Regions from separate parts of the Homo sapiens genome. Here region 2 is linked to region 1. A link means that fine-mapping ties the variant in region 1 to the expression of a gene that starts in the linked region. Tissue or cell type: whole blood. Region 1 holds a variant in brackets; the other region holds the start of a gene. All regions are shown on one strand. Distances are between the middles of the regions.

The links. PIP is the estimated chance that this variant, and not a neighbour inherited with it, causes the effect.
Region 2: TOR3A starts here. The variant in region 1 is fine-mapped to the expression of TOR3A in whole blood (Lepik 2017, PIP 0.95).

The regions. Positions count from the first base shown.
Region 1 is chr1:179,330,806-179,335,956 of GRCh38, reverse strand. SOAT1 (sterol O-acyltransferase 1) reads right to left here. Exons shown (of 16, transcript NM_003101.6): 4 at 300-451. Among named protein-coding and RNA genes, the nearest start is that of AXDND1, 33 kb to the left of the region's middle. The variant CA/A (reference allele first, on the strand shown) is at 2,267.
Region 2 is chr1:179,079,193-179,084,343 of GRCh38, reverse strand. It overlaps TOR3A (torsin family 3 member A), which reads right to left and starts at 2,274. Exons shown (of 6, transcript NM_022371.4): 1 at 1,957-2,274; 2 at 1,291-1,404. The coding sequence starts at 2,215. RefSeq lists silencers at 650-709, 1,700-1,869, 2,010-2,299.

The DNA.
Region 1 (5,151 bases):
GAACTCCTGACCTCAGGTGTTCCACCTGCCTCAGCTTTCCAAAGTGCTGGGATTACAGGCGTGAGCCACTGTGCCCGGCATTAGTGTTAAAAGAGGTATGCATGTATGTTATAATTTATATGTAAAGACAAAGAAATCCCCATCCTCCTTCAAATGGTTAAGTAACTTTCCCAATGTAACACACAGCCAATAGAAAGTGACACCAGGGTGTGAACTCAAGCATATTTGCCGCAGTCCATTTTCACCATTGAACTATACTGAGTAGATGTTTGCATTAAAAGAAAATAGCACATACTTACTTCGCTCTATGGTTGTTTTTCTCTCCTTCAAGAACAGAAAAGGTTGTGAGAGCGCACCCACCATTATCTAATGATGCTGACTTTTCAATGAGATTGGTCACAAAATCATCAAAGTGACTGCCAACTTCCTTCATAAAAAATGGCTTCAATTCCTAGAATTTTAAAACAAAGAAAAAGATGGGGAACTAATACATGCTTGTGAGTCATTAGCATTTCTCTAAAGGGCTCCCTTAAACAGAGCTGGATCAAAAGAAAGACATAGTGAGTTCGCAGGAGTAAAAGCAAAAAATCAATTCCTGTATCTGACTTGAAGTTTCAGAAACAGCTACCTAAAAGGCAACATAGTGATTTATACCCTTTTAAAATGTATACCCCTTGTAAGCATAAAACAAAATACCTCAGCCTCCCAAGTAGCTAGGATCACAGGTGTGCGCCACCACTGCCGGCAAATATTTTATTTTTTGTAGAGATAGGGTCTCCCTATGTTGCCCAAGCTGAACTCTAGGGCTCAAGCAATCTTCCCGCCTCAGCTTCCCAAAATGTTAGAATTACAGGCAGGCGGCACTGTGCCTTATCCCCACGTTATAATTACCATGATTCTAAGTTCTCTTTTTTCTTTCTTTTTTTTTTTTTTTTTTTTTTGAGATGGAGTTTTCCTCTTGTTGCCTAGGCTGGAGTGCAATGGCACGATCTCGGCTCACCGCAACCTCCGCCTCCTGGGTTCAAGTGATTCTCCTGCCTCAGATTCCCGAGTAGCTGGGATTACAGGCATGCGCCACCACACCTGGCTAATTTTGTATTTTTCGTAGAGACAGGGTTTCTCCATGTTGGTCAGGCTGGTCTCCAACTCCCAACCTCAGGTGATCCGCCCACCTCAGCCTCCCAAAGTGCTGGGATTACAGGCACAAGCCACCGCACCTGGCCCAGTATTGTAAATTTCTTTCACAATCTCCCTCATCTATGACCCCAACCTCTGACACCTCAGACGGTACAGAATGTCACTTATAAGGTAACTATTTTAATATGATCAATTCATGTATTTTCTTTTCTTGAAGTAACATTCATATGTGAGTAGTTTAGGTATCCATATGCGAGACAAAATAACAAACCACAAAAAAAGCCATATTTACTCATTTCTGCTTGCCAACACAATTTCACAAAGTTCTTGACTCTATGATGATACACAGCTTTCCAAATACTTTTAAGACAAAATAAAACACACACTCCCCCCACATATCTTGCCTAAGTCACTATATTCCTTGAAGATAATAACCTTGCCTTTTCCTATAAATGACAGTTAGTAATTACACTTCTATAATCTATAACCAAATATACTCTTACACCAAACCTTAACATATTCTACTCTAATATAACTTCTAACTTCTAAACAAACGTAACATAATTTTACATATGCGAAACCCCCACCACCTATACATAAACAGTAGACTAAAATACAGTGCCAGAAAAGGCTAACAAAACCTCTCTAAAAGACTACTCCCAGGCAGCAGGCTCTGTCTACAGTTCTCAATAAGACTTCTAAATACAATAACTTTAATTCTTAAAAAGCTTTTCTTTAGTTGACAATCACAGCGACTATGAAGGGGCTCAAGAATAGACTGCCCAGGGTCATCTAGAGCATTGCAAGGAACTGCAGCCTTGGTATAGCACAGGCCCCTTGAGCCCCTCTGGCTCCGCCATGGTTGCAGCCGACTGGGTGAGCTTCTGACCTCCCATTTGGTTGACAGTCCTGAATATTATTCAGCTAGCTGCTTTCACCACTTGACAAAAAATGAGTTCTTCCTTGAAACTTTTTTTTTTTTTTTTGAGACGGAGTTTCACTCTTATTGCCCAGGCTAGAGGGCAACGGCATGATACTAGCTCACCGCAACCTCCACCTCCCAGGTTCAAGCAATTCTCTTGCCTTAGCCTCCCAAGTAGCTAGGATTATAGGTATGCACCACCACACC[CA/A]GCCCATTTTGTACTTTTAGTAGAGACGGGGTTTCTCCATGGTGGTCAGGCTGGTCTCGAACCTCAGGTGATTCGCCCGCCTCGGCCTCCCAAAGTGCTGGGATTACAGACGTGAGCCACCGTGCCCCGCCTGAAACTTTTACCTTTTTAAATAGAGATGTGGTCTCACTATGTTGGCCAGACTGGTCTTGAACTCCTGGCCTCAAGTGATCCGCCCACCTCAGCCTCCCAAAGTGCTGGGATTACAGGTGTGAGCCACTGTGCCCAGCCAAGACTTTGTTTTTTTTTTTTTAGAAGAGGAATATCCTAGTTAAAAGATACTATGAAGAAAAAGATATGTGAGGCTGTCTGATTGGCCAGGTTGTACAGGTGTTTTCCCTTTCAATTTGATTCTATAAATGAAGCTCGGCAGGATAGAAACTATTACACATGGATAACGGTCTGGAACTGAAAACACACAGGATAGCACCTGACACAGTTGTCACTCTCCAGGTATTCATTGTTCCAACCTCTCCCCCTCAGTCTGAGCTAACCTATGAGGAACAATAAAACAATGTACAATAAAAATTGTAATTTAAGCAAATCCTATCATTTAGTCCTTTTATTGTTAAAAGGTAACTAAACCTACCACATTCCTTTACATGGCATTATAATTACATGCCTAATGTTCATTTCCTAATGCCCTTCTCCTCTTTCTCTGAGGAATTAAAGTTGATAGAAGGTGCTGCCACTGGGGCACAAGGAAGAAAGAACTCTGCTCTGTGGACGCTTACATTTCCTGAATCTCCTCCTTTCACAGATCCTAGCAGTGATGACAATAACGAGTAACTGCTTATTATTGTTACTCCCTTTGTAAGAGGGAATATTAAGAAATATAGTACAAGAAACAGTCCACTTCTGCCTTCTGACTTCTATCACATGAAACTTGTTAATTAGAACTCAGTATGTGATCACTAATAAATCTGAATAATGTCTGGTATCAGTAACCTGAAAATAATGTTGAGGTTATAGTCTTTCTAATTTGCTTATCTTTTCAATCTCGTATCTACTGATATTAATTTCATGCAGCCAGTGGACTCTGACAGCCCTAGCACCATGACAGATGGATGGAGAGAAGGAAGGAAGGGAGAAGCGGCAGAAGGGAGGAGGCAGTTAACTAGGAACTAAAAAAGGTGCTTTTTTAGGTAATCTAGTAAACTACATTTTTAGAGCTTAAGGAAACCTTTTGTATTAAATAAGCAGCTGAATTAGATAACCTCTAAGATTCCAAGAATAGGGATCAACCATAATACAAAGACCCTATGGTTGGAACACATAGTTAAAGGAACAGATGATAATGATCAGAGATAAGGCTGGAAAAGCAAGTAGGGACTAGATCATGGACCTTTAAGCCATTTTAAGAATTTTTTATCCTAAAGACATCTGGAAGCCAATGACATTTTAAGCACAAGATTTGTAAACATGTTCAGATTTGCATCTTAGAAAGATAACTCTTCTACCTAAAAAGGCTTCCAGGCAGAGATTACTTTGGACTGAGTATTACAATGAAAAAAGGTCAGGGTCATTTATGGGTAAATAACTCTTTCAAAGGTACAGAGACATAAAACAATCTTAAAGTATGCTGAAAGAAAAAAACAAAGTAAACCAATCAGTAAATAATAATATTTTCAGTGTCTCAAAAAAAAAGTAGGTCCCTTGATCACAATTTCTTCATAAATGGTTTTAAAGAACATTAACTCCACAAGGTCATATATTGCTAGTCTAAAAATTATTTCTTCCTCTGATTTGCTGCCTGTCTTTGCACAGAGAATCTTTTAATCTTGGTGGCATGGTACCAGAAACCTGACCTTTCTGAGCAAAACAAGTAACACAATGGAACAGGTAATACAGTGCTTAGGACTTACACTAAATTGACTCCTCAGAAAGGTCTCCTGATAATTCACTCTAAAGTTCTTTCTATTCTCTCTTACTGAATCTCATTCTTTTCCTTCATTGCACTTACTTGAAATTCTATATATTCAAGTGTATATGCTCTTTGGCATCTCACTGTCTGCCCCCCACCCAACTGATTTTAAACGATGTATCTTTTTGTTAACTGATAATTTTGTATTTTTAGTAGAGACGGGGTTTCACAGTGTTGCCCAGGCTGGTCTCGAACTCCTGGCCTCAAATGATCTGCCTGCCTTGGCCTCCCAAAGTGCTGGGTTTACAGGCGTGAGCCACTGTGCCTGGCCAAAGAACATTTTTAAGGTATCTAATTAAGTCACTGTTCCCCTTGCTCATGCATTTTGCATATAGTGTTCTCAGTTAGCATGAGAACAGAAAACACAACTTCTTTAAAATCCCAGCACTTAATGTAGTACCTGATAGACAAAGAAACCAAGCAGGCATTCATTAAATTGAACTGCTAAACATTCGAGGGCAACAGGACAGGTACCTGTCTACCTTTTGTAAGTGATGAAATCATAAAGCACAATAAACTGACTTTCACAAAATTATTCAAAATAGACTAGAGATTCTTACACTCGTGCATTTAAATGAGAAAAGGCAGAAAGGAAAATATCAGAAAAATGTATAGTCACACTTGCATAGCAAAAAGGTGAAATTTGACCAGTAGATTGGGACAGCAAAGAAAAATGGACAGCCATAGTAGAAACTGTTATTTGTCAACCCTATCAGTGCCTACCCCCTTTCTTAGTACTAGAATCCCTGATTTCTATCTGGGCACATGACTGCTTAGAGTAAATAAGTTTCCCAGTCTCTCTTTGCACCTAGGTAGCCAATGAGATACAGGTGGAAATGATTTGTCAAAGTCCACAGAAAATTTCCTTAACAGACACAGATACCTGTTCCTTACCCCCACTCCTTTCCTTCCCTCAATTTG
Region 2 (5,151 bases), 250 kb after region 1:
GAGGGAAGAGAATCGCTTGAACCTGGGAGGCAGAGTTTGCAGTGAGACGAGATTGCTCCAGCCTAGGTGACAGAGACTGACTTGGTCTCAAAATAAATAAGTAAAAAAAATAAAATAAAATACAGCTGAGGAAACGGACACTTGGGAAGGACTCTTCAGTTTGCCAGCAAGGAAGAGGCACGACTAGGAGGGGTCTCCAATCCGCTGGCCAGAACAATTTGGATATCCAGGCCCTTGTCGAACAAAAGGCATGTTGAGGACAGAAAGTAACTTGCTAATTGCTACCTAGGGTCTTATCCAAGTCAGCAGTGATCCAAATTAAGACTTCCTGACCTGTATGTAGTCCTATCTTCTGTCCTGAGCCAGACTGTGTCCCTAAACACACTGTGTTATTGGCATTTTGGCCAATTAAGTGACCTAAATATCTGGGGTGGGCCTCATTTATGGAGATTGAAGGACCTGGGATCAGGAGAACTCTGGGCAAGAAATTGCTCCTGGGGAAAAGAGAGGAAGCTTTTGCAAATGTCTGAACAGGTTTCAGAACATGGGGCCAAAGATCACCTTGTGAGAGTGAAAATGCAAATCAACTGCGATATGCAAATCAAGCAACCCAAACTAATTAGAAAATACTGGTTGCCATGGCACAGTGGCTCACGCCTGTAATCACAGCACTCTTGGAGGCCAAGGCAGGCAAATCACAAGGTCAGGAGTTCGAGACCGGCCTGGCCAACATGGTGAAACCCGCCCCCCCCCCCCCCCCCCGCCTCTACTAAAAATACAGAAATTAGCCGGACGTGGTGGCAGGCACCTGTAATCCCAGCTACTCGGGAGGCTGAGGCAGGAAAATTGCTTGAACCCAGGAGGCGGAGGGTGCAGTGAGCTGAGATCGCACCACTGCACTCCAGTGTGGGTGACAGAGCAAGCCTCCGTCTCAAAAAAAAAAAAGAAAAGAAAGGGACACTTTTAATCACAACCCAGAATTTCTGATCAGTTCTCTCTGGATAGTTCCAGCCCCCTCTGAGAGGTAGCTGTTTCTGTTTAGAGTGAAACAAGGTGCTCTGGGCCTGACAAACAGCTCAGTTTGCCTGGGCTATTAAGCTAGAGGCTAAAAAGGGGCTTCCCTGACTCAAGCATTTGGTACTCCCTCAAAACTTCAGTCAGACTGTGGCAGTTCCTGCTTGTCGGGAGGCTGGGCAGGATGACGAAAGGTCCCTTGCATCTAACCATTTCCCCTGGACTGCCTCCCCTCCCCACAGATCCCTAGCCCCTTGAAGCCATGCGGGGTCCAACCTGTAAAGTTGTTGGAGATTCTGCAATCCCCTCTAGGGCAGCAGTCTTTGAAGCTGCAGTACCACGTGGTCAGGAGGTCCAGGTACCGCTGGCCCAACAGAGGAAGGCGCCAGCCTGGAAAAGGAGGAGCTGTGAGACCGAGAGGAGACCATCCGGTGCTCTACAGTGATGCGGCAACCTTGCCACACAACTTGTCAGGGACAGAGGGACACCCAGAACTCAGATTCTAACTCCCAGCCCCGACTCGGCCCACTGTCGGTCCTCAAGCCCTGCGTCCAAAAGCAGCAAGGGAGACGGCAGTCACCAGGCATGTCCACAGCGGACGTTCCCTAGAGCTGTCAAGAGCAACACCTTCGAATAACGCCAGGGTGGGCTGGGAGATGGCACAGGCGGTGCGAGAGAATCTGGAAAGCGCAGGGATCAGGGGAGGCGGGGGACGGGAAGCCGGGCGCCAGGGGGGTGCGCAGGGGACGCGGGTGGGGCAAGGGCGGTGATGGGGCTCCCTGCTCCGCGGAGGCTGCCCCCGCCCACAGCCGGTACCGGCGGCTGAGCAGAGCAGGACTGCGGGCCCAGATGTCGCCCCGGACAGGAGCGAGGCGACCACAGCCGCGCCCGGATCGCACTCTGCTCCGCAGCGAACGGCGGACCGTGGGGACGGGGTCTTACCCAGGGGCCCCGTGGCTGCCTCCTCGTCCTCGTCACAGTCGTCGGGCCACACCTGGCAGCTGAAGAGCGTCCAGTACCGCTTGGAGAGGGCACCCGCCGCCCTGAGCTGCTCCTGCAGGCGCTGGAAGCCCGGCCAGGCCCAGGCCGAGCCCGGCTCGTCGGTTCCCTCCCACGGCCTGGAGGCGCCGCGGGGCTCAGGCGCGCCCGGGAGCAGCAGCAGGAAAAAGAGCCAAAGCTGGCGCCACGGACCGCGAAGCATGGCCGGCCCCGAGCTGCGGGACCATCCGGCTGCCGGCCTAGCCAGGCTCCCTTAAGCCCGGGGCGGTCAGGCGGGGACCGCACTTCCTAGGCGGGCTTGAACCCGGGATTGGTGTTGCTGTGGCGACCGGCGGGCCGGGCTGAGTGCGCACTGGCAGCCTCCGTACACGTGACCCAGGCGGGAACCCGAAACCCTGTCTGGGGTCCTGAGAGGCAGTCCCGAGACTGACTTCAGGCCAGGTGCAACTAGCCGGCTTCCAGGAAGCAGTTTATTCTGGGTCGTGATTGTGGTTGCAAAGAAGGTGAACTCAGGCTTTGAAATGGCCACTGTCAATCACTCCGCTAGGACTTTCGGACGGCTCTGGTGGCCCATCAGAGGCCTACCGAATAAGGACACTCCTGCTTTGCCTCGCGTTTGCAGATCAACTTCCCGCCAACCTGTTAGAGGAAGCCGGAAAACCGTCTCAGTCAGGAGCGTTAGGCAGGCCAGGGGAGTCAGCTGAGTGGAGAAGAGGCCCTGGAAAGAAGGGCACAGCTAGGTGCCTGTCTGGCCAAGGTTGCCCTGGCTCCTCCGCAGAGGGAAATGAAACCGCAGCAAAACACCAGCAGGTTTCCACAGTGGGAGTCCACGAAAAGCAAGAGGAAGCTGATTGACGGGCTCCAGTCTGGAGGTGTTTGGAGTTTGGAAACCCCCCGAGTCATGGGTAAATCATGAGGCGTCATGTCAATGTAATTATATCTCATAAAAATCCGAAGTACTGTGTGCACTTTCTTGACTAGGTTTGCAACTTTCAAGTGCTGGGACTGAGCAGCCCATCCGACACCATTGGCAAAAGACTACAGGGCCTCTTTCCCTCAGCGCTCTCTTCTCCATAGCGAGGAGCATGGAACAAGGCTGTTAGATTTCAGAAGAGCTTAATGCATTGTTTAAAATCACCTGGCTTACTTCAGCCAAGCCAAAAAGCCGTCTTGTCTTAGGAGAAAACTGCTGTCTAGAGAGATCAGAGGACTTGGCTAATGTCATATGTTTAGTGGCTTTGAGGTTGGGCCCTCCAGACAGTAAGGTGAATACTAGCACCGTGTCTCACAAATGTCACAGGCAACTTGATTCATCTGTTCACCCCAGTCTCTTAGATCACACCGTGCCAGGTCTGCTCCATTCTCAGCAGCTCACCAAATTTGTGCCTTTCATTCGAACAGCTACAGAAACTAGATAAAGCACCTTTGCTAGGACACGAGGTTGAGTTGAAAAGTAAAATGTTTATAGTGTCTCAGCCATTCAGTGTGATGTCAAAAACTTTTCATAGAGTAGCAGCCATGGCACCAGCCCAGCACTGTGTACATCGAGCTTGCGGAGTCCACCGGAGACAGTTAACAGCACATACACCACAGTGCTTATTGGAAAACCAAAAAAAATTAGGCAGGGTGTGGTGGCTCACGCCTGTAATCCTAGCACTTTAGAAGGCCGAGGCGGGCGGATCACCTGAGATCAGGAGTTCGAGACCAGCCTGGCCAACATGGTGAAACCCAGTCTCTACTAAAAATCCAAAAATTAGCTGAGTGTGATGGTGCGCATCTGTAATCCCAGCTACTCAGGAGGCTGAGGCAGGAGAATGGCTTGAACCCAGGGGGCAGAGGTTGCAGTGAGCCAAGATGGTACCACTGCACTCCAGCCTGGGTGACAGAGCAGGGCTCCATCTCAAAAAAAAAAAAAAAAGAAAAAAGAGAAAAGAAAAAAAATTAACTCACTCAACAAATGTCGTTTGAGTCTGAATGGCAGTCTAATATAGTGATTACCATTTTCTATTTGTGCAACCATGGATGTTACTGAACCGTCCCATGCCTGTTTCCTCACCTATAAAAAGGGATAATAAAATAGTCCCCTCATAGGGCTGCTGTGAAGATTAAATGAGCTCATTCAATGAGCACATCATCAACACTCAATACGTGGCCAGTTTTATTTTTGTATCTACCCAGCCATGGAGGAGGCTCTGGGTGGTCTACACAGGAGGCAAGGATGGCTTTAGTTAATACTGGTGGTTTATAAGTGAATTTATGGTGAAAAAATTAATAGTAACAATAGTTTATTAAAACAATCCAAGTTTTAAGATGTTGTGGAAAGAATTATCTGTACTTGGAACTTTTATGTAGGGCTACCTGCTCATTTCTGAGATGTTCTGACTTGGATTTAGCATCCCATTGTAAATAAAGTAGGTTAGCTGGGAAGTTCTTCGACAACCAACTTGATTTCAAGACATTTTTATTATTTATTTATTTATTTATTTATTTATTTAGAGACGGAGTCTTGCTCTGTCGCCCAGGCTGGAGTGCAGTGGTGCAATCTCGGCTCACTGCAACCTCCGCCTCCCCGGTTCAAGCGATTCTTCCCCCTCAGCCTCCCAAGTAGCTGGGATTACAGGCGTTCACCACCACGCCCCCGCTTTTTTTTTTTTTTTGTATTTTTAGTAGAGACGGGGTTTCGCCATGTTGGCCAGGCTGGTCTCGAACTCCTGGCCTCAGGTGATCTGCCTGCCTGCCTTAGCCTCCCAAAGTGTTGGGATTACAGGCGTGAGCCACTGCGCCTGGCCGTTTTTTTCCAAAAAAAAAAAAAAAAGAGGTAAACACTTTTTCACCAAAGAGTCAGTCCCGTGTAGAAACAATAAATCCAAACACCAGTTTCTAGATACGTCTCTTGAGTATTTCAATAAATACTCCTTTCCGTCTCAGGCCTTGGAGGCTGTGCTCGTTTTAAAGTTCTGGAAGCAGTATCTCATGGATGACGGGGACATCTAGAGGCTGCTGGGAAAACTACAGACAACTATGATTCTTTAGCAAGCATTACGGTGCTACTCAAGGGCGGTTCCAGAACCCCACCACTGGCATCACCCAGGAGCTTGTTAGAAATGCAGAATCTCAGGCCCCAGACATACTGAATCA